Linked DNA regions of Homo sapiens: all the other regions are linked to region 5. Evidence: fine-mapped expression QTL. A gene starts in region 5. Each other region holds a variant in brackets. All regions are shown on one strand. Distances are between the middles of the regions.

Region 1 (5,108 bases), 41 kb before region 5:
TGCCAGTATATCTGCTTTGTAAGAAGCTTGCTTTAAAATTCTGGATAACATAGAATTTAACTCCTTTTAGGGTTAGAATTAAAAATTTGACTAAAATTTATTGAATTGTTTTTTAGCTGTTATACTCTGAATTTAACTTTTTCTTCATGACTATTGTGAATGTCAGTTATAATGATGGTTATAGAGGATCCATAGATGAAGAAATAGTTGGTATTGAATATAGAGATGAGTTGTTAATGACTTTAGCAGTATTTTGAAGGTTAATATTTTAGATAAAACCGTAAATTGTGTTGCCTTTTGCTAATTTGCTGATTTCTTATAAAGGTAAAGAAAGGATGAAGACTTAATATGACCTCTGGGACAGTGTATTATTGCTGAGTATCTGCAAAATTAATAAGGAAATTAAAGGGCAAGCCAGTAAGCTAACAATTATCTTTCTACCTCCAGGCAATGGTTGTCATATATTTGTTCTCACTGCTCTTTGGGTTGTGAGGCAGTATTCAGGAATCACTTGTATATATGCATCCCTCATCACAGTGGAATTACACTGTCTATTGTAGTATACCTTAATTATGCTCTCAGTATAAGAGGGAATGTTTGTTCCATTCTTTATCAAAAAACACAACATAATAATACAACAATAATAGGTAAGCTGGGTTAGTACTTTCTCTATGCCAGGACAGTGCTAAGTGCTTTCAGTAATTTCTTATAACTCATATGAAGTAGGTGTAATTATTGGCCCCATTTTATAGGTAAGAAAACCTAGTTTTAGAAAGATGAGAGCATTTGTCCAGGGTTACAGAGATGATAAAAGTGGGAAAACCTGAATTCAAAATTCTCAAATCAGATGCTGTATTCTTAGCCATTATGAATTAGTGGTAGCACGCAATAGTAGATGGAAATCTGGATTGTAAAACCTCCTACTTTTATAAACCAGAGAGGTGACCTTGATCAAATTATTCTCTTTGTACCTCAGTCTTTTATTTGTGAAATAAAAGGATTGAACTAGAGTTGTCCATTTACATCCCCCCAGCTCTAAAATTGTGTGTCCAAGGTGGCATTCTCATAGATACTAGTTTTTCACCCCCAGATTCTTTACTGTTGGATTTTTTCAACAGATGAATCAACCTTCTTAAGTGATTTTTTAAATAACATTTTTGTATTCCAAGTATCCTGTTTTAGTTCAAGTGATGCAGGATCAAGAAGATGCTTAAAAACACTTTAGACTCTTTGAAATCTAATCAAGCCCACGATAACAGTGCAGTGGTTAATAGGATAGGCTCCAGAGCTGTGCTGTTTACTGTGTTGTTGGGAGACAATTCTCCATAGGCCTCACATTTCTGCACACCTTTCATGAAGTGGCATGGACAAGTTCTGTTCCAAACTATCTTTTCTAGGGTGTTTGTCTTGGAAGGTAGAGATAGTGTGTCCCACCAGAGCAGAGGGTAAGTTTGTTTTGCTGTCCAGTATAGTAAAGATGATGTCTCCCTCTGGAGCAGATTTGTTTGCAGTCTCTCTTAAAAGAATGGGATTTCCTAAGCTTGGGGTTCCTTAGCTATGGTGAAAACCCATTGTGTGTCCACCAGCCACCTGGGTATTTTAATTTAGAATCTTTTAAGATAGAGAGCACTCCTCCCATGATTAGGAGAGACACAAGATGGAAATAAAAATTTTATTACTTACAAGTCCTAGGGGTACACAGCATACCTGAACACCACACAGGGAGGTCAGGAAGAGAGAGAAAGGGACCCATGGGCCAACGCCTTTATTGGGTCCAGGGCATTATCCAAACAGAGTTTTAGTTGGTGGGTTTAAAGCAAGCAGGCATGCATTGAGGAGGTCACACAGTGACTGAGAGATAGTCACTGTGGCATGTCTGTGTAGTCCATGTGCGGTATGAGGGTTGGGGGGTCAGTCAGGTAGGCCATATGTAGATGGCCCATAGGGAGGTGGTTACCAGGAGGAATTTATATAAGGCAGATATCTGGATCAACCACATTGAGGTATAGAACTGGAAACTGTGTCGGGTGAATGAGCCCTGCTTTTTGTATGAGAAAGTCCAGCTTGTATGCAGAATTATAAGAATTCACTGCACTGGACTGTTTCATGTCATCTTCTTGGCACTTGGGAGCAAAGGGAATTAATAGGAATGTTAAGTTCATGCTGCCTGCTGTGCTGAAAATAATAAAGTCCTTTATCTCTGCCCCCAGAAGCCTCATGTCTTTAGCCAGCACCAATGGAACTTTGACATGTTCACCTGTTAGTTGCCAAGTTGGGTAGAATCTTAGACCCTTTATAGTTCTTGACAGTTGTGGCCACGTGTGACTATTTAAATTTAAAGTTAAATTTAAAAATGGAGTTCCCCATTCACAATATTCACATTTCAGGTGCTCAATAGCCATGTGGATATCGAGTAGTATAGATAGAGAACATTCCCATCATCACAGAAAATGTTCTATTG[G/C]ATGCTACTTTAGGGCCAAGGTTGGCAGCCCTTAAGTGTAAAGGATTCAATAATAAATACTTAAGCCTTTACTGACCACACAACCTCTGTTGGAACCACTCCACTCTACTGCTGTACCACAAAAGTAGCCGCTGACAATATGTAAATGAATGTGAGTGTGTACCAGTAAAACTGTATTTAAAAAAATAGGTGAAAGGCCAGATTTGCACCATGAACAATAGTTTGCTGACCCTTACTCTAGTGTAATATTATCTAGGTTTGAATTGTACCCAGTAAAGCTCACTAGCTGTGTGACTTTAGATGAGTTACTTAGCTTTTCTGTGCCTCAGTTTCCTTATCTATAAAATGATGGTTATTGTGGTACCTCTAAGATAATGTACCTAGCACATGGTGTTTGGTTATCTACCTAAAGATTAACAAATAAAATGGTGAATGAGGGGAAAAGTGGTTTTGTTTATACATGTTAGCTTGTGCTGGTAGCATTTACTATTATTAATATTTATGCAGCAAGGTGCTTCAGTGCATATCCTCATGTGTTTTTATTTATGGACTTGAGTGAGAATTTCCCTGGGATATATACGCAGGTAGAGGATTTCTGAGTTATAGAATATATCGTTACCTAATCTGACTACACAGTATTAGAGTGCTCTCTAGAATATCTGCACAGTCTGCACAGCCCCAGCAGTCCCTAGGGTTCCTGTGTCCCAGCATCCCTGCCTGCCCTTGGCATTATCCAGCTTTTACATCTTTGCCTTTCCTATAGGTTATTTGACATTCTAAATGATTGTTTCAGTTTTCTTTTTGTCTTCATAGACTAATGACCTTTTACATTTCATAGAAAATGTCTATTTGTAATTCATTGATATGTTTCAATTGGAGTTGCTAACCTTTTTTTTCCTGTTAATTTCTAAGATACCTTACATATTGTGGTTATATTGGTCTTAAACATTTCAAATGTTATCTCCCATTCTGTCATATGTATGTTACTCTTTGTTCTTGATATCCTGGGTTGCATAGAAATTTTTATTTTGGTGCAGTCAAATCCATCGATTTTTTTTTTTCCTCATTTGATTGTGGTCTTAAACTTGTCTAAGCCCTTCTAGGGGAAGCAACCAAAACACTTGGAATAGAGTTGAAAAGTGATGTGATAATGTTGCTGTAGGTGTCTTTCTGGTCTGAGGAAGGCAAGGAAGGCATGCTGGCAGAAGATAAAATTTAAGCTGAGATTTGAGTTAGACTCTTGGAATGCAGGGGAGAAAAGGCAGGGAGGAGAGAGCATAAGATAATACCTAGAGATGAGAGAGATACCTGTTTCTTGTTTGTTTGTTTTAGGTACTCAAATAATATTTAATTAGATGGCAACCATGCTAGAGAAATAGACATGGTTTTGAAAGGCTTTGTAAGCCATTGAGGTGTTTGGATTTTATCCTAAAGACTATTGCAGGGTTTTAGGCAGAGAGAGTATTGATTACATCTGCCTTATAGAAGGTCACTCTGCATGCAGTGACAAAGTCATCTGCATCCAAAATTTTCTTTATTTACCCGTTTTGATAGTATTTCACAGGGAAATTTAATTTATTCAGCAACCCACTTACCCATTTTAAAATTTAGAATTGTTAGGTTACTACACTCTATTTTGTCATTTTATTTTAGAATTCCTGAGTTGTTTCTGGTTTTGGGGGGAGGGGGGGTTTGTTTGGTCCCCTTGCTTTTTCTTCCTTTTATCTTACTTATATTAGTCTTTTTGAGATGGTTTTGGTTTTTGAGTTTTTTTAATCTGGTGATTTTTCAATTTATAAAACTTTAGAGTTAAAATAATTTGCACCCATATTTTTAACTCTTCTTGTGAAAGAAACTATATGGTTTTATTGATCAAATTTCAGGTTTTGTCAAAATAATCTGGCATTTTAATCTGTTGAGGACATTGAGGGTAGCTAAAAGGTATCCCTAACCTTTTAAGGTTGACGTCATGAAGAGTAATCATCATTTCCTTAAAAAAAAAACATTACTTTGGGATTCATCAGTCCTACTACTGGGTATTTATCCAAAGGAACCAAAATTACTATTTCAAAGAGATACCTGCACTCTCATATTTATTGCTGCATCGTTAATCACAACAGCCAAGATATGGAGTCAACCTAAGTGTCCATCAACAGATGAATGGACTTTTTAAAATGTGATATATATATATATACACACACACACACACACACACACACACACACACACACACACACAAAATGGAATACTATTCAGCCTTAAAAAAGAGGAAATTTTGTCATTTGTGACAACATATATGAATCTAGAGGACATTATGCTAAGTGAAAAAAGCCAGCCACAGAAAGACAAATACTGAATGATTTCACTTATATGTAGAATCTAAAAAAGTCAGACTCTTAGAAGTAGAGAATAGAGTGGTGGTTACCAGACGGTAGGGAGGAGGGGTGGTGGGGGAGATGTTGGTCAAAGGGTACAAAGTTTCAGTTAGACAGGAGGAATAAGTTCTGGTGATCTGTTGCACAGCCAGGTAACTATAGCTGATAATGAGGTATCATATAGTTCAAAATTGCTGAAAGTGGATTTTAAATGTTCCCACCACAAAGAAAAGTATTTGAGGCAATGGATATGTTAATTAGCTTGATTTGCT
Region 2 (5,108 bases), 240 kb after region 5:
CATACTTATGAACACGTGTATATATATTTATATAAGATCTACCTATCTAGGATGGAAACTCGGGTGAAAATAAAATAGGGTGAAGGTAAAAAGTACGTAGCACTTCCAGTTGTGAGCCAAGATTGTAACTAGAGAGCAGCCAGGAGCTTCCTGTCAGTAACCATGTTTTCAATAAATACTCTCTCATGTACAACAAATAAATAAAAAGCTGCTGCTCATATCTGAAATGTTCTCAAGTGAAACTGATGTCAGGAATTTATTTTCCCTTGCCTAATCTTACAGGATTAAAATTTGGGTTATTGGCTGGGCGTGGTGGCTCACGCCTGTAATCCCAGCACTTTGGGAGGCTGAGGCGGGTGGATCACGAGGTCAGGAGAGCCAGACCATCCTGGCTAACACAGTGAAACCCCGTCTCTACTAAAAATACAAAAAATTAGCCAGGCATGGTGGCGGGTGCCTGAAGTCCCAGCTACTTGGGAGGCTGAGGCAAGAGAATGGAGTGAACCCAGGAGGCGGATCTTGCAGTGAACCGAGATCGTACCACTGCACTCCAGCCTGGGCAACAGAGTGAGACTCTGTCTCAAAAAAAAAAAAAAAATTGGGGTTATTGCAACTTTCCCGCTGATACTGGATAGGCTAGCAGTGGATATTAGCCTATCCAATATCAGTGAGAAATATATTTTATTTTCATATAACTCATTTTAAAAATTAATAAATACTATAAATGCTCTAAAGAAAGACTTCCTAAGGCTTAGAGGTCACCAACAAAGCTAGCCAACTAGTACCAAGAGTATCCCGTGGTATCATTTACTTTGGTTGATTTACAGAGCTCACAGTCCAGTCCTCAGCTTTACAGGCTCAGAAATTTAATTTTGTTAGTGCACTAAAGATGACACGTCTTTCAGGAGTGTGCCCATATTTACTGGTGCATAGATCATAATGTTTATGTATTACTTCTGAGAGAAAAGTAAAACTGATATACAGAATATGACTTATTGGAATCAGCACACCTGGCATCTTCTCTCCCTATTTCCTCCTAGCTTCTGCCATACTATACACTCATATTTTTCTCCTTCATCCTCCTCTATTACCTGATCATAAAACACTGAATTTTTCAGAGCTTTTTTCCCTCTAAGCCTATTCATTCCATTCTGTACTTACTCTCAGATAATTTCTACACCCTGGCTTCAGCTACTAAATGCCAATATTTGCAAACGTACGTCTCCAGTTCAGACGGTTCCTTTTAACCACCTGCCTACTTGACATTTCTACTTGGATGTCCCATTGTGACCTCAAACTTAACATGTATTAAACTGAACTCACCAACTTTCTCCTCCAGTGTTTTCAATTTCAATAAATGGTACTACCATTTATTTACTCAGTGACTTATACCACAAAACCAGGAGTCATCCAAGACCCTTCTCTTGTTAACTACCAGCATTCAATTACCAAGCCCTGTTGATCTGCCTCATATTTTTTTTTACTTTTGATTGTGAAAATTTCCGGCCGGGCATGGTGGCTCACGCCTGTAATCCCAGCACTTTGGGAGGCCTAGGCAGGAGGATCACCTGAGGTCAGGAATTCGAGACCAGCCTGGCCAACATGGCAAAACCCCGTCTCTACTGAAAATACAAAAATTAGCTGGGTGTGGTGGCGCATGCCTGTAATCCCAGCTACTCGGGAGGTTGAGGCAGGAGAATTGCTTGAAACCGGGAGGCGGAGGCTGCTGTGAGCCCAGGTCGTGCCACTGCACTCCAGCCTGGGCGACAGAGTGAGACTCTGTCTCAAAAAAAAAAAAAAAAAAAACAGAAAAGAAAAAAAATTTTCAAATACACAAAACGGCAAAGGAAATGTCAAGACAGGATATATTCATTGTCTTGATTGTGGCAATGGTTTAACAGATATATACCTTTGTCAATATTTATCAAATTGTACATTTTAAAATGTACAGTTTTGTTTTGTTTTTTTGAGGTGGAGTCTCACTCTGTCACCCAGGCTGGAGTGCAATGGCGTGATCTCGGCTCACTGCAAGCTCTGCCTCCTGGGTTCAAGCAATTCTCCTGCCTCAGCCTCCTGAGTAGCTGGGATTACAGGCACCCGCCACCACGCCTGGCTAATTTTTGTATTTTGGTAGAGACGGGGTTTCACCATGTTGGCCAGGCTGGTCTCGAACTCATGGCCTTAAGTGATCTATCCACTTCAGCCTCCCAAAGTGCTAGGATTACAGGTGTGAGCCACCTCACCTGGCCAAAATGTGAAGTTTATTATATGTCAGTTGCACCTCAGTAAAGATGTTTTTTGAAAGGAGGAAAGAGGGAGAGAAGGAGGACGGTAGGCGGGTGGGCAGGCAGTCAGGCAGGCACCATCTAGAAAGCCCTGATGAAGCCAATGACTTAACAAACATCAATGAATGCTAAAACAATTAGATAAAGGATAATAGGGAATATTATATCAGGCCATAACCACCTATAATCACTAGTCAACCTTAGTATCATTAAAATGAGACAACCAGACATTATGTGCTTCCTGATGTGATGTGATGTGATGTGAAGTATAAAGCAATACATGTATAGTATTTTTGTCAAAAATTTTAAGATTTTAGCTGAATCAAATTGAGTCTTCAGATCCAACTTCCAATCTACAGGCAAAACAAGAAAGAGAAAATCAAGCTAAAAGACGCCAGGAGGAAGCAATTGACTAAATCCAGAACACGGAACATTCTGGGCACTGGGAAGGACAATTGCTTTTAGGCCTTCCTTATTTTGAGGCATTTTTAATAAAGCTGTAAAATAATACGTTTTTAAAGAGAGGGAAAAACTCATGAGTTCCCACTGATATATCCAATTCTAATTTGAAATTTAAAGATTTCAATTCTCTGATTTTACATGTGTGTTTCATTTCCTGTGTGTGAATTGTTAACACAACCTTAGCTCAAGCCATC[A/G]TGTCCTCCTCCCTAGGATTCTTCGGTAGTCTCCTAACTGGCCTTCCTAAATTTACTCATGCCATTCTCCGCAGCAAAGAATGGATTTTTTTTACACTGTGATTTTTTATTTTGAATTTAACCTACAGTTTATACAAGAGATTTATAAGACATGAACTTGGAAAACAGAACAAAATGTAATTGAGGTATAAGAGCACAGTATGTCATGTTTCAATAAATATAATTCAAAATTTTTAAATGATCAAATAGATGAGCCTTGCGTTTTACTAAACCCATGTGAAATATTTGTTTCTTGCATGGGAGGTAGAGAAAAACTGTATTCCTTAATGCAATCACCACAATGTTTATCATAACATTGTACATCACCAACAAATTTTTAAAGTATTAACTATTTTGATCATAATGAGTGTTTGCAATAGTTGCAGAAAGATATTTCACTTACTGCCTTCACAGACTATTAAGTTCAGAAATAACTTAAAAGCTACCGTATTGGCATAACATCATCAAGATAAACAAATATTTCCTAAATAGATGCATAAAAACATATATTTTATTGTCCTCAGCCCGTAGCTCCTAAAGGTATCTTAAATTTAGCCAATCCTTTTAGCTCTTGCATTTTAAATATGCTATGCTTCCTTTATTTTTATTTATTTATTTATTTATTTTTTGAGATGGAGTCTCACTCTGTCACCCAGGCAGGAGTTCAGTGGCACAATCTCCACTCACTGCAACCTCCACCTCCCAGGTTCAAGTGATTCTCCTGCCTCAGCCTCCTGAGTAGCTGGGATTACAGGCGCCCACCAGCACGCCCAGCTAATTTTTAGTAGAGACAGGGTTTCACCATGTTGGCCAGGCTGCTCTCGAACTCCTGACCTCAGGTGATCCACCCCACCCGCCTCAGCCTCCCGAAGTGCTGGGATTATAGGCATAAGTCACCATGTCCGGCACTTCCTTTATATTTAAGGAGGGCATCTATAGTTGAGAAAAAGTTTCCCAGATTTTTTTTTGTCACAAATAGAATGAAATGCAATGAATAGAACAGAATAAAAATGACTGTCTTCTTAACCCAGAAGCAATACAAAATATCCATGCACTTTTCTTCTAATAATGGAAATGCATACATATCCCTTGATAAGAAAAGAAAAAAAGTCTTAAGCTCTAAACATTTAAATTATTCAGTTCCACAGCTTATAATACAGCAGTTACGTTCCTTGTTGATAGCTTCATAAAAACTACTAAGTAGTTTCAAATGCATAGTAAAAGCACAATTTTATCTTAATTTTCTAAAATGTCCAGTCATGTAAAATAAAGAGATCAAAAACAGAGGAAAAAAATTTCATTACAATTTTTTCCTTCAAAAAAATCAAAACTTAATTCCAATAAATGAGAAGGAATGTTAGCTGACAAAAATGAAAAAAAAAAAAAATGGCTGGGAGCAGTGGCTCATGCCTGTAATCCCAGCACTTTGGGAGTCCGAGTGGGAAGATTGCTTGAGATCAGGAGTTTGAGACCAGCCTGGCCAACATGGCAAAACCCCATCTCTACTGAAAATATAAATAGTTCCAGCTACTTGGGAGGCTGAGGCAGGAGAATCACTTGAACCCAGAAGGCGGAGGCTGCAGTAAGCCAAGATGGTGCCACTGCACTCTAGCCTAGGTGATATAGGGAGAAAAAAAGAAAAGAAAAGAAAAGAAAAAGGGACATAATATTAACTTTGGGGCTGGTGTTTAGTTTGTGGGGATAGTTTCTGTCTCCTGAACCCTGGAGGGAAATGCAACAAATCTAAAAAGTAGTAGAATAACCCCAAAGGTGTGTTCATGAATGTTTAACCATCAGCTCCCAGGAAAAAAGACCCTGATTTTCATAGTGGGGCCTAGATTTTCATGGCAGGATGGAATGAATGAATACTCCCACTATGGCCAGCGTAGAGCTACCAAAATGGGGCTAGGAAGAGGTGCTTACACTCAGCTCACTGGGCTACACCATTCCAGCAAACACTGCCCAGGCCACAGGGTACAGGCCCTGCCTGATCCAAACCCAAACTTCTTTTGAGCTCCTCCATGGTATTCAGTGGCCTTTTTTGAATTCCTTAAACTCTTCCAGCTGTTTCTTTTCTCAGGCTCTTCACCACATTCTGCCTTCTCTACTTAGAATACTGCCTACCTAG
Region 3 (5,108 bases), 180 kb after region 5:
GATTTCCAGATTTCTGAACTTACTGTAAAGTTACAGTCAGCAAAACAGTGTGCAACTAGAATAAGGATGGACATAAAAACCCACGGAATATTAATAGAATAGAGCCCAGAAGTAAACACTTGCCTATATGGCCAGTCGTTTTCAACAAGAGTGCTAGGACCATTTCATGGAGAAAAGCCAGTCTTTTCAACAAATGGGGCTGGTAAAACTGAGTATCTACATGCAAAAGAATGAAGTTGGACCCTTACCTTACACCATATTCAAAAGCTAACTCAGACTGGATCAGAGACCTAAATTTAAGCATTAAAGGTATAAAATGCATAGAAGAAAACATAGGAGAAAATCATAACCTTGGATTTGGCAATTTCTGCAAAAGGACAAGCACAAAAACATAAAATAGATAAATTGAATTTCCTAATTATAAAAAATTGTGAGTTAAAGGAGATTATCAGCCGGACCCAATGGCTCATGCCTGTAATCCCAGCACTTTGGGAGGCCAAGGCAGGCAGATCACTTGAAGTCAGGAATCCGAGACCAGCCTGGCCAACATGGTGAAACCCCGTATCTACTAAAAATATGAAAATTAGCCAGGCATGGTGGCGCACGCCTCTAATCCCAGCTACTCAGAAGGCTGAGGCAAGAGAATTTCTTGAATCCAGGAGGCGGAGGTTGCAGTGAGCTGAGATCGCACCACTGCACTCCAGCCTGGGTGACAGAGCAAGACTCCATCTCAAAATAAGTAAGTAAGTAAATAAATAAGATTATCAAGAAAGTGAAAAGACAACCCACAAAATGGAAGAAAATATTTGCAAATTACATATCTAATAAGACTATATTATTAAGAATATATAGAGAACTCCTACAACTCAGCAACAACAACAAGAAAAATCACAATTAAAATACAAGCAAAAGACTTGGGAAGACTTCTCTCCAAAGAAGATATACAAATGCCCAGTATGCACATGAAATAATGTGCTTTGGCCAGGATGTGGAGAAATTGTAATCAAATTTCTTGCTGGTAGGAATGTAAAATGGTATCACCACTGTGGAACCGTTGCAGTTCCTCAAAAAGTTAAATATAGAATTACCATATGACCTAACAGTTCTACTCCACTTCTAGGTAGCTACCCAACAGAAGTGAAACAAGAACTCAAGATATACAGTATTTGTCCACCAATGTTCATAGCAGCATTATTCACAATAGCCAAACAGTGGAAACCCAAGTATTCATCAAGAGATCAATGGATAAACAAAATGTACTATAAACATACAGTGGACTATTATTTACCATTAAAAGGAATGAAGTTCTGATACATGATACAACATAGATGAACTTTGAAAACGTCACACTAAGTGAAATAAGCAGACAGCAAAGGACAAATATTGTGTTATTCCACTTATGTGAGGTATCTGGAATAGGCAAATTCACAGAGACAGAAAGTAAGATACAGGTTTCTAGGGCCAGGAGGGAGGAGAAAATGGGGAGTTTTTGTTTAATGGGTACAGAGTTTCCATATGGGCTGATGGAAGTGTTCTGGAAATAGAAGTGGTAGCTATTCAACATTATGAATGTACTTAATGCCACTGAATTGTACACTTTTCACATGATTAAAATGGTAAATTTTACATTATATTTTAAAACACATTTGTCAAAAATTTATACATAATGATTTGGATATATAAATTATGTATTTTTAAAACAAGGGAATATGAAGAAATGAAAAAATTATTGAATTATGGTGTGAATATTTTTAGTAGAAGTAAAGCTGAAATAAAAGAGTTTAACTTTTAGCTAAGTGTTTCCATTTTAAAAAGATATATTTTATGTCATATAGCTTTTCAGACCAAGACAAATACTAAGAAAATTTAAGTTTATGCATTCTCAAAATTGCTATTAATATTTTATTTAAAATTTTTTCAGCCAGGCGAGGTGGCTCACACCCGTAGTCCCCGCACTTTGGGAGGCTGAGGTGGGCGATCACCTGAGGTCAGGAGTTCAAGACCAGCCTGGCCAACATGCTGAAACCCCATCTCTACTAAAATTACAAAAATTAGTGGGGCATGGTAGCAGGCACCTGTAATCCCAGCTACTCGGAAAGCTGAGGCAGGAGAATCACTTGAACCTGGAAGGCGGAGGTTGCAGTGAGCCGAGATCGCGCCACTGCACTCTAGCCTGGGCGACAGAGCGAGACTGTCTCAAAAAAAAGAAAACAAAAAAAATTATTGTTTATAGTTGCTATTAAGAATAGCTATATTGATTCACTCTTAAAACCTTCAAATTTACACAGGAAAAGCTTTTCAGAATAATTCATGTCAAAGGAATTTCTGTACTATATTTGTGCTAGAGCATTTTGAATGATTTTATTTTGTTGTCACATTTTCTAGATTTTAATGAAACCTGTGTTTCTTTAGCTTGACAGAGCCAATTCGCTATTAAACCAGACTCAACAGCCTTACAGGTATCTC[A/G]TTGAATCAGTGCGTCAGAGAGATTCTAAGATTGATTCACTGACGGAATCTATTGCACAACTTGAGAAAGATGTCAGGTAAACCATCTACAAATCTTTTATTTGAATAATAAAGACATTGTTACCATATTGCTGCTGTAGGTGAATTTGGGTTGTAAATCATGAACAGAAAATTTAAATAATGAAGGTGTCTTAAATGTAATGAATATTAAACTTTTCTTAGAAAAACTAAGGTCACATCACATCAGGTGTTCACATTCCACCTGTGATCAGATGTCTTAGCATGGAAATAACAATGTTACACTTATGAGCATAACATTCCATCTATCCTAGAGGACACAACCGCTATTGGTCCTTGTTTCCCTAGAACTCTTTAGTGTGGTGTAGATTGACCAGAGGGAGAGGAGGAATAAAACCAGATGCCATTTGTGTCGTTAAAATGGCTTTTTAAACAACAACAACAAAAAATTTACATTTACTTAGATTTATGTTGATTTTTCCAAGGAATTTTTAGGCTTTTCTTCTGACCTTTTACATGAAAGTAACTTTTAAGTGTAAATAAATAAATTTCTTTCACTTCCTTAATTTGTAATTGTTTCTGTATGAGATCTTATCCAAAAAAAATTTGCTATGACCAGTTTGGTTTTTTAAACTGAAATTAAAGAATGAAGATATGTGTAAATGAAACAGTTTTACTTGTGGATAGATGGTTAGTTTGCTTAGTTACTAGATTTCCAAGATTATAAGAATAATTTAGATTTTTATGGGTAAATTATTAACTGATTATCAATGTAAAAGCAGAGAATTAAGTGGGAATAGAAATGGTTAAATCAAGGAATTGGAAAACAATAAGGAGAAGATGGTTGTTAAATCCAGGTTTCTTAAAGTATGCAAACAAAAATATAAACCTATTGGTAACTAATTCCAAAGTATAAATGTTATTTTTAATGAATCACAGTAATTACCTTCTTTCATTTCTACCCCACCAAAATAATTGGTCTAGAACTTTATTCCTGTTCTTAATTTTTTATGATTTGTTTAAATAATTTAGGAGCACATTTATACCTTAAATGTGTCAAAATAAATAAGTTTGTTTCTAGATTAATTTTAAAGTTAAAAATTCTGTATACAACCTACAATAATAAATTAATTGTTCTATAAATAGTTCTTGGGGACAATAGAAATTATGTCTTTCACAATTCACTGGGCACCTGATTATCTTAGGGAAATTGAAGAAAGAACCCCAAATAGAATTTTTTCCTCCTATGTTACATATTTCTGTTAAATTTGAATATTTTTTGGCCAGGCGCAGTGGCTCACACCTGTAATCCCAGCACTTTGGGAGGCTGAGGCAGGCAGATCACCTGAGGTCAGGAATTCTAGACCAGCCTGGCCAACATAGTGAAACCCTGTCTCGACTACAAATACAAAAGTTAGCTGAGCATGGTGATGCATGCCTGTAGTCCCAGCCACTCTGGAGGCTGAGACAGGAGAATCGCTTGAACCGGGGAGACGGAGGTTGCAGTGAGCTGAGATCATTTCACTGCACTCCAGCTTGGGCAACAGAGTGAGACTCTGTCTCAAAAAAATTAAAATTAAAATTAAATTTTGAATCTTTTTTTTTTTTTTGAAACGGAGTCTCACTGTCACCCAGGCTGGAGTGCAATGATGTGATCTCTGCTCACTATAACCTCTGCCTCCCGGGTTCAAGTGATTCTCCTGCCTCAGCCTCCTGAGTAGCTAGGATTACAGGCACACGCTGCCACGCCCAGCTAATTTTTGTATTTTTAGTGGAGACAGGGTTTCACCATGTTGGTCAGGCTGGTCTTGAACTCCTGACCTCATGATCTGCCCTCCTCGGCCTCCCGAAGTGCTAGGATTAAAGGCATGAGACACCATGCCCGGCCTTAAAATTTGAATCTTTTATATGTCTTATTTTACCATTATTTCTTGTGATGAGGAGGTATATAAAAATCCTGAGGAAAAAAATTACTCCTTTCACAGTTATCTCCAAACAAATTTATTTGATTATTTATTTTACTAAGAATTAAGGTAGCTTAAAATGTTTAATATAGAGAAAATAATAGCTAGCTGTAGGAGAAAATTATAAAGATGAACAAATTCAGCCATAGAGAAATTAAGCAACTTGTCCTCTAAGAACATGCAACATTGTGATAGAGTAAGAATTCAATTTTATATCTGTCTGCTTGCTAATTCTATTCTCCTAACCATTAGGTTATACTGCCCCTCTATGTTCTATTCTGAATAAGGGATAATATTTCTTTAGCTAAAATAATTAAGGAAGAGAACAAAAAAGTAGTGTATCATAGTGATTAAAAGTAGCACTTTAATGAGTTGATCGTTGTTGAAGCGGGGTGATAGATATATCAGGGTTTGCTATTACATATTTTCTCTTCTGAAATATTCTATAATAAAATTTTTTAAAAAACAGATTTTAAAAGGAAGTTTTCAAATTCAACTCAGTACTTAGTTTTGAGTTAGGGCAAGTAATTTAAACTCTCTAATACCTCTGTTGTCCAATAGAACTTTCTATAATGATAAAAATATTCCATATCTGGCTGGGCACGGTAGCTCAAGTCTGTAATCCCAGCACTTTGGGAGGCCGAGGCGGGCGGATCACGA
Region 4 (5,108 bases), 150 kb after region 5:
CTTGTTCAGATTGTTGGTAATATGTGACCTCTGCATCTCATTTTCTTGCATGTCTTTGTCTTCCATTTCATTCATTTGTAACTCTAGTTCTGTGTAATTGCATTTGATTGTGTTTATTGTTCTATACTGAGTATACACATACTTGTTCTACACCTTCAACATATTTATTGAAAAATTACCATGTTTAAGTGACCCTAGTGTGAAGTTCTGTGGGACACAAAAAGATAAAAAAAAGTTAACACCTAACATGTATGAAGAGTAAGAAAGCAAGAATAAAAATGTGAATAAAGATAGCTCCAAGATTTTTTAATTAACCTAATAAAAATAGAGCTAATGATAAACTGATGCTTGCAAACGTATAATGGAATCAACGGATTTTAAATGCAAAATTCACATTAAGGCTTATTTTATTTGTAGAAATCTTGTTATTTTAGGGTCAAATTAGAGAGAACTTAGTATATTTTTATTGGGAAATGAAGAACAATATAGTCATAAACTGTAAACTCCTTAAAAATTTATAAAGAGAGAAAGATTAATGGTTCCCTAAGGTTGAATTTGAGGAGCAAAGGAGGAAGTTGGAATGTGGGGAGGATGGAGAGTGACTGGTAATGGACACAGAAATTCTTCTTGAGATAATGAAAATGCTCTAAAATTAGATTATAGTGATAGTGGCACAACTCTAAATATACTAAAAATCATTGAATTGTACACTTTAAATTGGTGGACTTTATGATATTTAAGTTGCATATCAGTAAAATTGTATGTCAGTAAAGTTTAAAAAAAAAGTGGTTGTCAAAAAATGAGGACTGTATGCTTTTTCCATCTCTAATGCCAGTTGAAAGAATTTTAGATCTAAACAAGCAACTCAAATCACTTTATAAACTTTTGCCAGAACTCATCTTTTTTATTTGGTATGAGTTCTTAGAAATAGATATATAGAATGATATTTAACACTATTTATTATTATTATTATTTTTAGAGACAGGGTCTCTGTGTCACCCCAGGCTGGATTGCAGTGGCACAATCCTAGCTCACTGTAACCTCGAACTCCTGGGCTCACGTGATCCCCCCATCTCAGCCTCCCAAGTAGCTGGAACCACAGGCATGCACCATCATGCCCAGCTAATTTTTGTATTTTTTGCAGAGGCAGGGTCTCACCCTGTTGCCCATACTGGTCTTGAATTCCTGGCCTCAAGTGATCCTCCTGCCTCAGCCTCCCAGAGTGCTGGGGTTGCAGGCATGAGCCACCGCGCCTGGCCTTAACATTATTTTTTAGAATGTTGTCTGCATTTCTTTATCTGATATTGGGAAATATTAAAATACAATAGAATTTTTTCTGCCCTATGATTTTATTTAAAGCACAGTTATCTTACTTTTTGTCATTATAAAACATTCCATCTAGGATTCCATGGATTCTGCAATTCACAGATTAATAGGTTAACTAGTATAAAATATGAAAATATGATAAATATGAAAATGTTAAGTTACTGGAAATGCAGAGAGGTTCTTTGGAGCAATATGTCTTCTCAAAATTATTAGCAGTTCTTTAAAGAAATATACCACTTCCTCCCACCATAGTTAGAAGGAATAGATTTTATTCTTAAAATTGTTTCTTAAAAGTAGAATTGAGATGTTTCATATGTAATTTTAAATACTAAAGGTCAGTGCAATAAGTTATGGTAATGCAGAGCATCAGAGGGAGTGATTTTTTTCTTTTAGTACAGAAGCTTAGCCTTTACTATAGACATTCTCTAAGTTTTATATATCTTTTTCATCTCCACTTTCAATTAAAAACCTCATTTTTGTTTTATATTATAACATGCATTATGTTGTTTAAAGTAAACTCTGATACTTCTCAAAGTGATAAGCTAATTATTGTTTGTAATATTTCAACTAATTTTCTGATTTGTAATTGGAAAATATTTATAAAAGTGGAGACAAGCTGTAAATTGCTGTATTGTGGTCTTTTCAAGCAAGTGTTATAATGTTACCTCTCCACTTTTATAGCAAGGGCTAAAAACCGTTACTGCAGTAATCAGTCTATCACGGTTATGTTTTAATGTTGTTACTCTCATAATTCTGAGTTGTGGGGTATTGGTCTTCCACTACTGGTGCCTGAAAATATTATTTGACTCTATATTTTTTCTGTTAATATTTAAGTATAATTAGGAAATGATGTCTATTTTCAAGTACACAAACACATTTTGAATATTTTGGGCAGTATTTCACTTTTAAGCATTAATTTTCTTATTTCATTTGCCTAGTGTTCACTTGGCAAGAAGAGTGCTTCAATTAGAAAAACAAAACTCGCTGATTTTAAAAGATCTGGAACATCGAAAGGACCAAGTAACACAGCTTTCACAAGAGGTAAATAACTTAAAGAAACCCATATGAAGAATCACAGTATTCATTTTAATTGTTTGTAACTCTTTTATTTTTCTAAGCAGTTTTAAAATAAGCTGTTTGCTAGTACAAAATGATTTCACAATTTATGAAACTAACTGAATGTTAAGGCCATAAAAAACAACTTACAGTGTATGGCAAAACTGAGAACAAAAGGGAGATTAAATGCCCAGACTAAGTATAAATGCAGACTAGACAGACAGAGCTTTGATTTCTGAGAATATCAACTGGTAAAACAGGTTTGGCAAACTTTGGTGACATTTTAAGTTTTTTACTAATCATTTTTAAGATAGATTTGGTTTTTACCTCTGTGTTTAATGAGAAATCACTCCTCTGTTAAATTTAACTTTGTTTACACTTAGAAAATCAGGCTCATATTGCTTCTTTTTCTTAGCCTTATGTCATTTAAACTAC[GTATA/G]TATATATATATATATATATATGTATGCATTTTACATAGCATTTTTAATCATCTTCTGATGTCAAGATCTAATTTTATTTTTCTGTACTTTTGAAATGCGAGTCATAAAACAATTTAAACCGGAGGTACTACTTTGCTAATGTTCCTTTTATTTATTTATTTAATATTCCTGAGTGTCAACATAAGAAGTTTTTCCGTTTTTTTCTTTGTTTCTTTCTTTTTTTTTTTTTTTTTTTCTGAGACAGGGTCTGGCTTTATCGCCCAGACTGGAGTGCAGTGGCATGATCACAGTTCATTGCAACCTCTGCCTCCCAGGGTCAAGGACTCCTCCCTCCTCAGCCTCCCAAGTAGCTGGAACTGTAGCTACGCACTACTGTGCCTGGCTAATTTTTGTATTTTTTTGGTAGAGACAGGGTTTCACCATGTTGCCCAGGCTAGTCTAGAACTTCTGGGCTCAAGCGATCCACCTGCCTAGGGCCTCTGAAAGTACTGGGATTGGAGATGTGCCACTGCACCCAGCCAAGAAGTTAATATTTTAAAAGTTTTAAAAACTATTTCTCTTATAACAAAGGGTTTTTTCAAGTCATACATTAAATAACATTAATATATGTTGTTTATTATTTGTTTTCTTAAGGATCTGTTTATATTCTTTAGAGTGTCTTTTCATACTATAACATTAGGAGGATCTTTATCCTCAAATTTCGAAAGACCAGAAATACTTCATTTTATTGCAGTTCCTGACACATAGTTAATGCTTGGGGTTGACACAGTGGTGTGTTGGTAAATGTTAACAGCCAGCTTTCCAAGAGGGATATGAGGGAGAGCTTGATTTGTAACATTGGCTTGTATCTCTTTTATAAATACTCCCACCATGGCTGACTTCAAACTACCAACCTAAGGTTACTGAAGATGGAGTAAAGATTGTCAGCAGCATACCAGTACTTAATGTTTGCACCATACAGATACAACAGACATAGGTAAACTCAAGAGCACAGATAATAGTAAAATAATTTTAAATTGACAAATTTGATTGTTTTTACCTTTGTTTTTAATAAAATGTATTTTACTATAAATTTAAATAATTTAGTTTAGTTTTTAATGCTAGTTGTGTTTGATAGCCAGCCCACAAAATTCCTAAAAATTTTCAGGATTCATTTGTACTTCATTCTTTTCATTGCTGAGTAATTTCTTTGTGTGGATGTACCAGTTTGTTTATCCATTTACTTGTTGATGGACATTGGAGTCATTTCCAGTTTTTGGAATAAAGCTCATATGAACATTCATGTACAAGTCTTTGTATGAAATAATAGAGAACTCCTACAAGCTGCTGCAAGCCAAGTCCAGCACACTGCTAGGTGGAAGCAGAAAAGATAATAAACAAACAAACAAACCTCTGTTTGCTAATATATTGTAGATCCCTCATGTTGCCTTTAATTTCACAGTAATTTTCAAAAATATTTTTTAAAAGTAAAATATTAAAATACATGCCTTCCTGAGCATTTCAGTTAATTGAAATAAGAATTTCTAAATGTGGGCTGGATGCAGTGGCTCATGCCTATTATCCCAGCACTTTCGGAGGCCAAGGCAGGAGAGTCACATGAGCTGAGGAGTTTGAGCCTTGGCTACAAAGCAAGATCCACCATCTCTAAAAATAAAGAAGCCGGGTGCACTGGCTCATGCCTGTAATCCCAGCACTTTGGGAAGCCAAGGCAGGGGGATCACTTGAGGTCAAGAGTTCAAGACCAGCCTGGCCAACATGGTGGAACCCTGTCTCTACTAAAAATACAAAAATTAGCTGGGCATGATGGCACATGCCTGTAATCCCAGCTACCTGGGAAGCTGAGGCACGAGAATCACTTGAGCCTGGGAGGCGGAGGTTGCAGTGAGCTGAGATCGTGCCATCGTACTCCAGCCTGGGCAACAGAGGGAAACTCTAGTCTCAAAAATAAAAAGAAAGAATTTCTAAATGTGAACACACGTCTATAAATTGTTGGGAGAAAATGTAAGAAATTAAGTGTTAAATGCTCCTATAATTAAGTATAATTAACTTTGTATGAAACCATTTTTAAATAAGCTATGGCTTATATTGAGAAAAAGACTTAAATGCTGAAATATTTATGATGTGAAATGGTATGGTGCCTGGAATTTGCTTTAAAATATTTCATGAGAAAAGGAGGAAGGGCTTAACAAATAAAACAAGAATCACAAAATGTTAATAATGTTTGAAGTTGGATGACGTTTACATATAGGTTTAGTAGTGAGTTCTGGACTTTTGTGTATGTTTGAA
Region 5 (5,108 bases):
TTTAATAATTTGATTTATATTAATAGTTTTAGAATTATTTTATTCCTCATCGTTGAATGCACTTGCTAATGCTTTTTTTTTTTTTTTGAAACAGAGTCTTGCTCTGTAGCTCAGGCTGGAGTGCAGTGGCATGATCTCAGCTTACTGCAACCTCTACCTCCGGGTTCAAGTGATCCTCCCAACTCAGCCTCGCAAGTAGCTGGGACTAGAGGCATGTACCACCATAACCAGCTAATTTTTGTATTTTTAAGAGACAGGGATTTTCCAGGTTGGCTAAGCTGGTCTGGAACTCCTGGCCTCAAGTGATCTGCCCACCTCAACCTCCCAAAGTGCCAGGATTACAGACATAAGCCACCACGCCCAGCTGCTAATGTTTTAAGCTCATCAGTGAAAGACACAGTCATAAATTTTTGAATTGGTTTTAAACTTGGGTCTTTCTGCACTGAAAAACAAGTGATGTTGCTATTTCTGGATTTCAAGGAGGTACTAACAATAAGAAGCCTACAAGGGCTTTACTGGTATTCTTTACAAGAACATTGAAGTTTGAGATATAAGAATCAAGAAAGTTGAGATATTAAGGTTTTTAAAAATGTGCATAATCTGATGGAATTTCATTACCAGAAGTCTACACTCTAATCCAATGGTTCTCAATTGAGTGAATTCACCCCTCAGGGCATTTTGTATCATTACAACTGAGTGGTGGTGGTGGTGGTGGTGGTGGGGGGGGTAAGGGGTGGTGATCCTGCCAAATAGGCTAGGAACACTGTTAAACATACTACAATGTATAAAACAGCCTTTCCACCACAAAAAAATTATTCAGTTCAAAATATCTATAATGCCAAGATTGAGAAGCCCTGATCTAATCCAATAAAAGTACCATACTCATCATAGATTATTTATGTAATATAACGTAATAGGCAATATCATATTTTTGAGACCACACACTGAGTTCAAAGGTCTTGAATCTAAAAGCACAACAAAGAATTATATTCCTGGCCAGGCACGGTAGCTCATGCCTGTAATCCCACCACTTTGAGAGGCTGAGGCAGGTGGATCACGAGGTCAGGAATTCGAGACCAGCCTGACCAACATGGTGAAACCCTGTCTCTACTAAAAATACAAAAATTAGCCTGGCATAGTGGTGCGTGACTGTAATCCCAGCTACTCAGGAGGCTGAGGCAGAAGAATCGCTTGAACTTGGGAGGTGGAGGTTGCAGTGAGCAGAGATCACACCACTGCACTCCAGCCTGGGTGACAGAGTGAGACTCCATCTCAAAAAAAAAAAAAAAAAAAAAAAAAGAATTCTATTCCTTAACCTAATCTTGCTCAATGTAATCAGCTGCAAAGTATTAAACTTTTAAAAAGACCATTAAGAATAAATCTACTTTCTATTTTTAAACAAAATAGAAACTTCACAAACTCATATATTTTATTACCCTCTGTTAGTTGTTCACATAATATGGTATTCCAGGAACTTAAGCAAATCTCATCTTCCAAGATTCTATGGTCCAACTCATGCTAAAACCAATTCAAAATGAAAACATTTTGGAAATTAAAGTACCTATTGTAGTCTAGGAGTCAGCAGACCTTGGTTTTAGGCTTGAGCCCATCAATGCCTGTGTGACCTTAGAGAGATCCACTTAGCATTATCTTCTGCACAGCCATGTAAGAATTAAATAAGGTATGAAATCTATCACTTATCTTCTGACAATGTCATAAATTACTCACAGGAACCCTCTCCCGAATTTTGCTAATCCTGTGGTTTTCTGATATTTAACGTAATATTCCTCCTACCTATGGTGCTCATTAGTGAAAGTATAGAAATGCTTCTCTTGGTTATTAGTCACATCTCGGATGCGTTTATATACGGGGGCACTGCGATTTCTCACTTCTTGAAGAACTGTTTGTAGCACAATTACATTCCTGATGGCAGGGTCCTCAAGAACATCAATCTTAAAGAAAGATAAAGTTAATTTTTCCTATATTCATTTGTAAATAGCTCTGTCAAACATAAAATCCTGTTTTATGTTGGGCATAAATACTTTATGTTTTAAAAACACTGAATAAGTTAAGCCAAGAAGCTATTTGGCTATAGAAAACGAGACAATAGTCACTAAACCCTTCAGATCTATTAAAAAAAGCACACTTAAACAGACCAATCACAAGACTTCGTAGAATTAAGGGTATTAATAAAGGAATACGTTGGCCCACATAGTTTTTTGTTCCTAGGCACTTACAAGCTGCCTGGGAGTCGCAGGCTGGAGGCCACAGAAGCCCAGGTCCCCGGCCTCCAGGCACTTACAATCTAAGGCAGAAGAGACACCAGGAGTTAGAAAAATAACGTGTCTGAACTACGACTCCAAGAACTAAATTTTTTAAAGCACAAGGAAAAGAACCTCGGCCTGGGGAACAGGAAGCTTCGGTCCCGAGGGGGTTTCCCTTTCGCTAGGTATGTGACACTGCCAAAGACCCGCCTCCCTGGGCCTCAGTTTCCCTGTCATACCCCCTTGTCCCCGTGGGGCCGCGCTGTCCGCGGTTCGCCCGCCCACGCACCTGGTGCAGTAACACATTAGTGTCGGGCAGCAAGTAGTGCGGTTGCGGGCAGACGCTGCTCGCCGGGTCCTGGGGCTGCGGCTCCAGGGCCGGCCCCTCGTGCGCCCCTCCACACGCTGCGCACCCGGGCGCACCGCAGCCGATGTCGTCTCGCAGGTAGTGCTCGCGCACGATCTTCATCACGCCGCCCGCCCGGGTCTTTTTTAAGAACGTCTTGGACTTGAGCATCTTGCCTCGCCGCGCAGAATCCTAACCCCAGCAGCGCTCTTCCAGCAAAAGGCGTCAATCTAGAATACGCCTAACCCCGGAGGTTCTTCCCTTTCCATTCCCGGATATTAGTAACACTTCTCGCGGGAAAATGCCGAGATAAACATTGGTTGGCTCTCTGACGGCCGCGGGGATTGGGCGAGAGTGGGGAGGGGCGGCAAAGCAAGGCGAGGAGCCATTTCCGCCCGTGGCCTAGGCGGGGCTTCCTTCTGGACGCCACCTCACAACGTGTGTTGCTTTCCGCTCCTCGGAACATCCGGGAGAGTTGACTTCCGGCGGCTTGTGGGAGTGCTGGTTCTGTCCTCCTTGCGGGTGCGGAGATGGTTGTCTTGGTTACGGGTCCTAACGGTCCCCTGCCTTGAAATCCCTTGTTGAGGGCCTGCAACCTTGTGCTTCCGACCGGAGACGCCTTTGGTCCCTCGGTGTCTGCACTGGCTGCTGGTCAAGGCTTCAGTGTGGAGTAATTGACACTTTCGAGGTAACTTGCGACTATCATCGCTTTCTTTCCCGCGTGGGGCAAGGAATCCCCCGAGCTGCCAAGTTTGGGGCTTAATTTTCACGCCGAGTGTATAGGCAGTCCCCGTCTCGGGCCCTTTGTAATCGAGGAGAGAATTTGTCTTTGAATTCACTTTTTCTTACCTATTTCCCTTCAAAAAGAAGGAGGGAGGCCGATCTTAGTATAGTTCTCGCTGTTTCCCCTCCACACACCTTTCCTTATCATTCAGTTTAGAAAAACTGAAATATTTAATAGCATAATTTGTTATATCATGAGGTATTAAAACAAGGTAGTTGCTAACATTCTTATGAGAGAGTTAGAAGTAAGTTCTATTTAGAATTTCTTGAATTTTTCTTATATCCTGTTGTTTTCATTCTGCTATCTATAAAAAATGTTTTTGTCCCCGTTTTCCCTATTTAAAACATCTTCAATGATGCCTCATTGCCTGTAGAATAAAATCCAACCCTATTTTGACATTTAAGGCCTTCCAGTCTTGATCGTTAAGGGCGTGTGTGTGTGTGTGTGTGTGTGTGTGTGTGTTTGTGTTTGTGTTGGGGGGGCGGTGAAAGGAGTAACTATTCCAAGACTTGGCTTTGTTTTTTTACTTCCACTTACGTATCATTAATAACTGCATGATTTCTCCTTTTTACCATGCCTGTCCAAATCTTTAAAGATTCTAAGTGCTACCTCTGTGTAACGTTTCCCTGACCAACTCAGACGTGATTTCTGTTATCTTTGAGCATGTGTTGGTTTTAGTGGTGCCATTCTTGATTATAATGGGCTTTTTTCTTCATCTTGTACATTTCTTTGTTTCCTCCAAGTAAGATTCCTCCCCGCAGGAACTGTTTTTTTAAGTTTCTCGAAGGCTGACTTCATATTAGGAATTAATGTGTTTGATTTGAGCATTAACTTAACTGCAATAATCTGTTCTAGATTTGGGATGCACTAAATTGCCTAATATTTATTTAAGGAATCCTTAGTCTCTCTTTAATACAGTCCATGATTTCTGTAGTTAATTTTATAGTACATTTGAATTAATGTTTTTTAACCTACAGAATATTAAAATCAAATTAGAGAAGAAAACTGATCCATAATAATAAAAATGTCTCGAAAAATTTCAAAGGAGTCAAAAAAAGTGAACATCTCTAGTTCTCTGGAATCTGAAGATATTAGTTTAGAAACAACAGTTCCTACGGATGATATTTCCTCATCAGAAGAGCGAGAGGGCAAAGTCAGAATCACCAGGCAGCTAATTGAACGAAAAGAACTACTTCATAATATTCAGTTACTAAAAATTGAGCTATCCCAGAAAACTATGATGATCGACAATTTGAAAGTGGATTATCTTACAAAGGTAAGATCAGGTTTAAATTTTGTGTTCTATATGCTTTATTGTCTTCAAACGGCAGGTAAATAAGAATTAAATACACACATTATCTGAACTTGAAATGATACATTTATATTTCTTGACAAGTACAGCCTTTAAATAATTTTGGTGTTCATAGAAGTAGAGAATAGAATGGTGGTTACCAAGGGCTGGCATGGTTAGGGGTGAAGGAGGGTTGGGGAGATGTTGGTCAAAGGATACATAATTACAGTTGAATAGGAGGAATACATTCAAGAGATCTATTGGACAGCATGGTGGCTATAGTTAATGACATTGTAATCTTGGAAAACATTGTGTTTTTGAAAAACACAGCAGATGTTAAGTGTTCTCATTACTAAAATAACTATGTGAGGTAAAACATTTTTTAATTAGCTAGAGTTAACCATTTCACAATGTACGTATACT

Direction of the effects. Positions count from the first base shown, and alleles are read on the strand shown. Sizes are in standard deviations (SD) of each study's normalised expression. Not every link is listed here.
In carriers of allele C in region 1, the expression in fibroblasts of the gene that starts at base 3,082 in region 5 tends to be higher than with G alone (small effect, 0.40 SD a copy in GTEx).
For the expression in monocytes after interferon gamma of the gene that starts at base 3,082 in region 5, allele G in region 3 goes with a lower level than allele A (large effect, 1.2 SD a copy in Fairfax 2014).
For the expression in NK cells of the gene that starts at base 3,082 in region 5, allele GTATA in region 4 goes with a higher level than allele G (large effect, 1.2 SD a copy in Gilchrist 2021).

The links. PIP is the estimated chance that this variant, and not a neighbour inherited with it, causes the effect.
Region 1: its variant is fine-mapped to the expression of PIBF1 in fibroblasts (GTEx, PIP above 0.99).
Region 2: its variant is fine-mapped to the expression of PIBF1 in lung (TOPMed, PIP above 0.99). The same link has a PIP of 0.9 or more in esophagus mucosa and stomach.
Region 3: its variant is fine-mapped to the expression of PIBF1 in monocytes after interferon gamma (Fairfax 2014, PIP 0.95).
Region 4: its variant is fine-mapped to the expression of PIBF1 in NK cells (Gilchrist 2021, PIP 0.90).

Annotation. Positions count from the first base shown.
Region 1 is chr13:72,738,114-72,743,221 of GRCh38, forward strand. All of the region lies in intron 5 of BORA (BORA aurora kinase A activator), which reads left to right. Among named protein-coding and RNA genes, the nearest start is that of BORA, 13 kb to the left of the region's middle. The variant G/C (reference allele first, on the strand shown) is at 2,462.
Region 2 is chr13:73,019,538-73,024,645 of GRCh38, forward strand. No RefSeq gene overlaps it. Among named protein-coding and RNA genes, the nearest start is that of KLF5, 37 kb to the right of the region's middle. The variant A/G (reference allele first, on the strand shown) is at 2,942.
Region 3 is chr13:72,962,862-72,967,969 of GRCh38, forward strand. PIBF1 (progesterone immunomodulatory binding factor 1) reads left to right here. Exons shown (of 18, transcript NM_006346.4): 15 at 2,413-2,543. Among named protein-coding and RNA genes, the nearest start is that of KLF5, 94 kb to the right of the region's middle. The variant A/G (reference allele first, on the strand shown) is at 2,467.
Region 4 is chr13:72,928,901-72,934,008 of GRCh38, forward strand. PIBF1 (progesterone immunomodulatory binding factor 1) reads left to right here. Exons shown (of 18, transcript NM_006346.4): 14 at 2,265-2,367. Among named protein-coding and RNA genes, the nearest start is that of KLF5, 130 kb to the right of the region's middle. The variant GTATA/G (reference allele first, on the strand shown) is at 2,818.
Region 5 is chr13:72,779,052-72,784,159 of GRCh38, forward strand. PIBF1 (progesterone immunomodulatory binding factor 1) reads left to right here and starts at 3,082. Exons shown (of 18, transcript NM_006346.4): 1 at 3,082-3,298; 2 at 4,372-4,670. The coding sequence starts at 4,419. It overlaps DIS3 (DIS3 exosome endoribonuclease and 3''-5'' exoribonuclease), which reads right to left and starts at 2,849. Exons shown (of 21, transcript NM_014953.5): 1 at 2,554-2,849; 2 at 1,795-1,952. The coding sequence starts at 2,781. RefSeq lists enhancers at 2,041-2,955, 2,873-2,982 and a silencer at 2,543-2,592.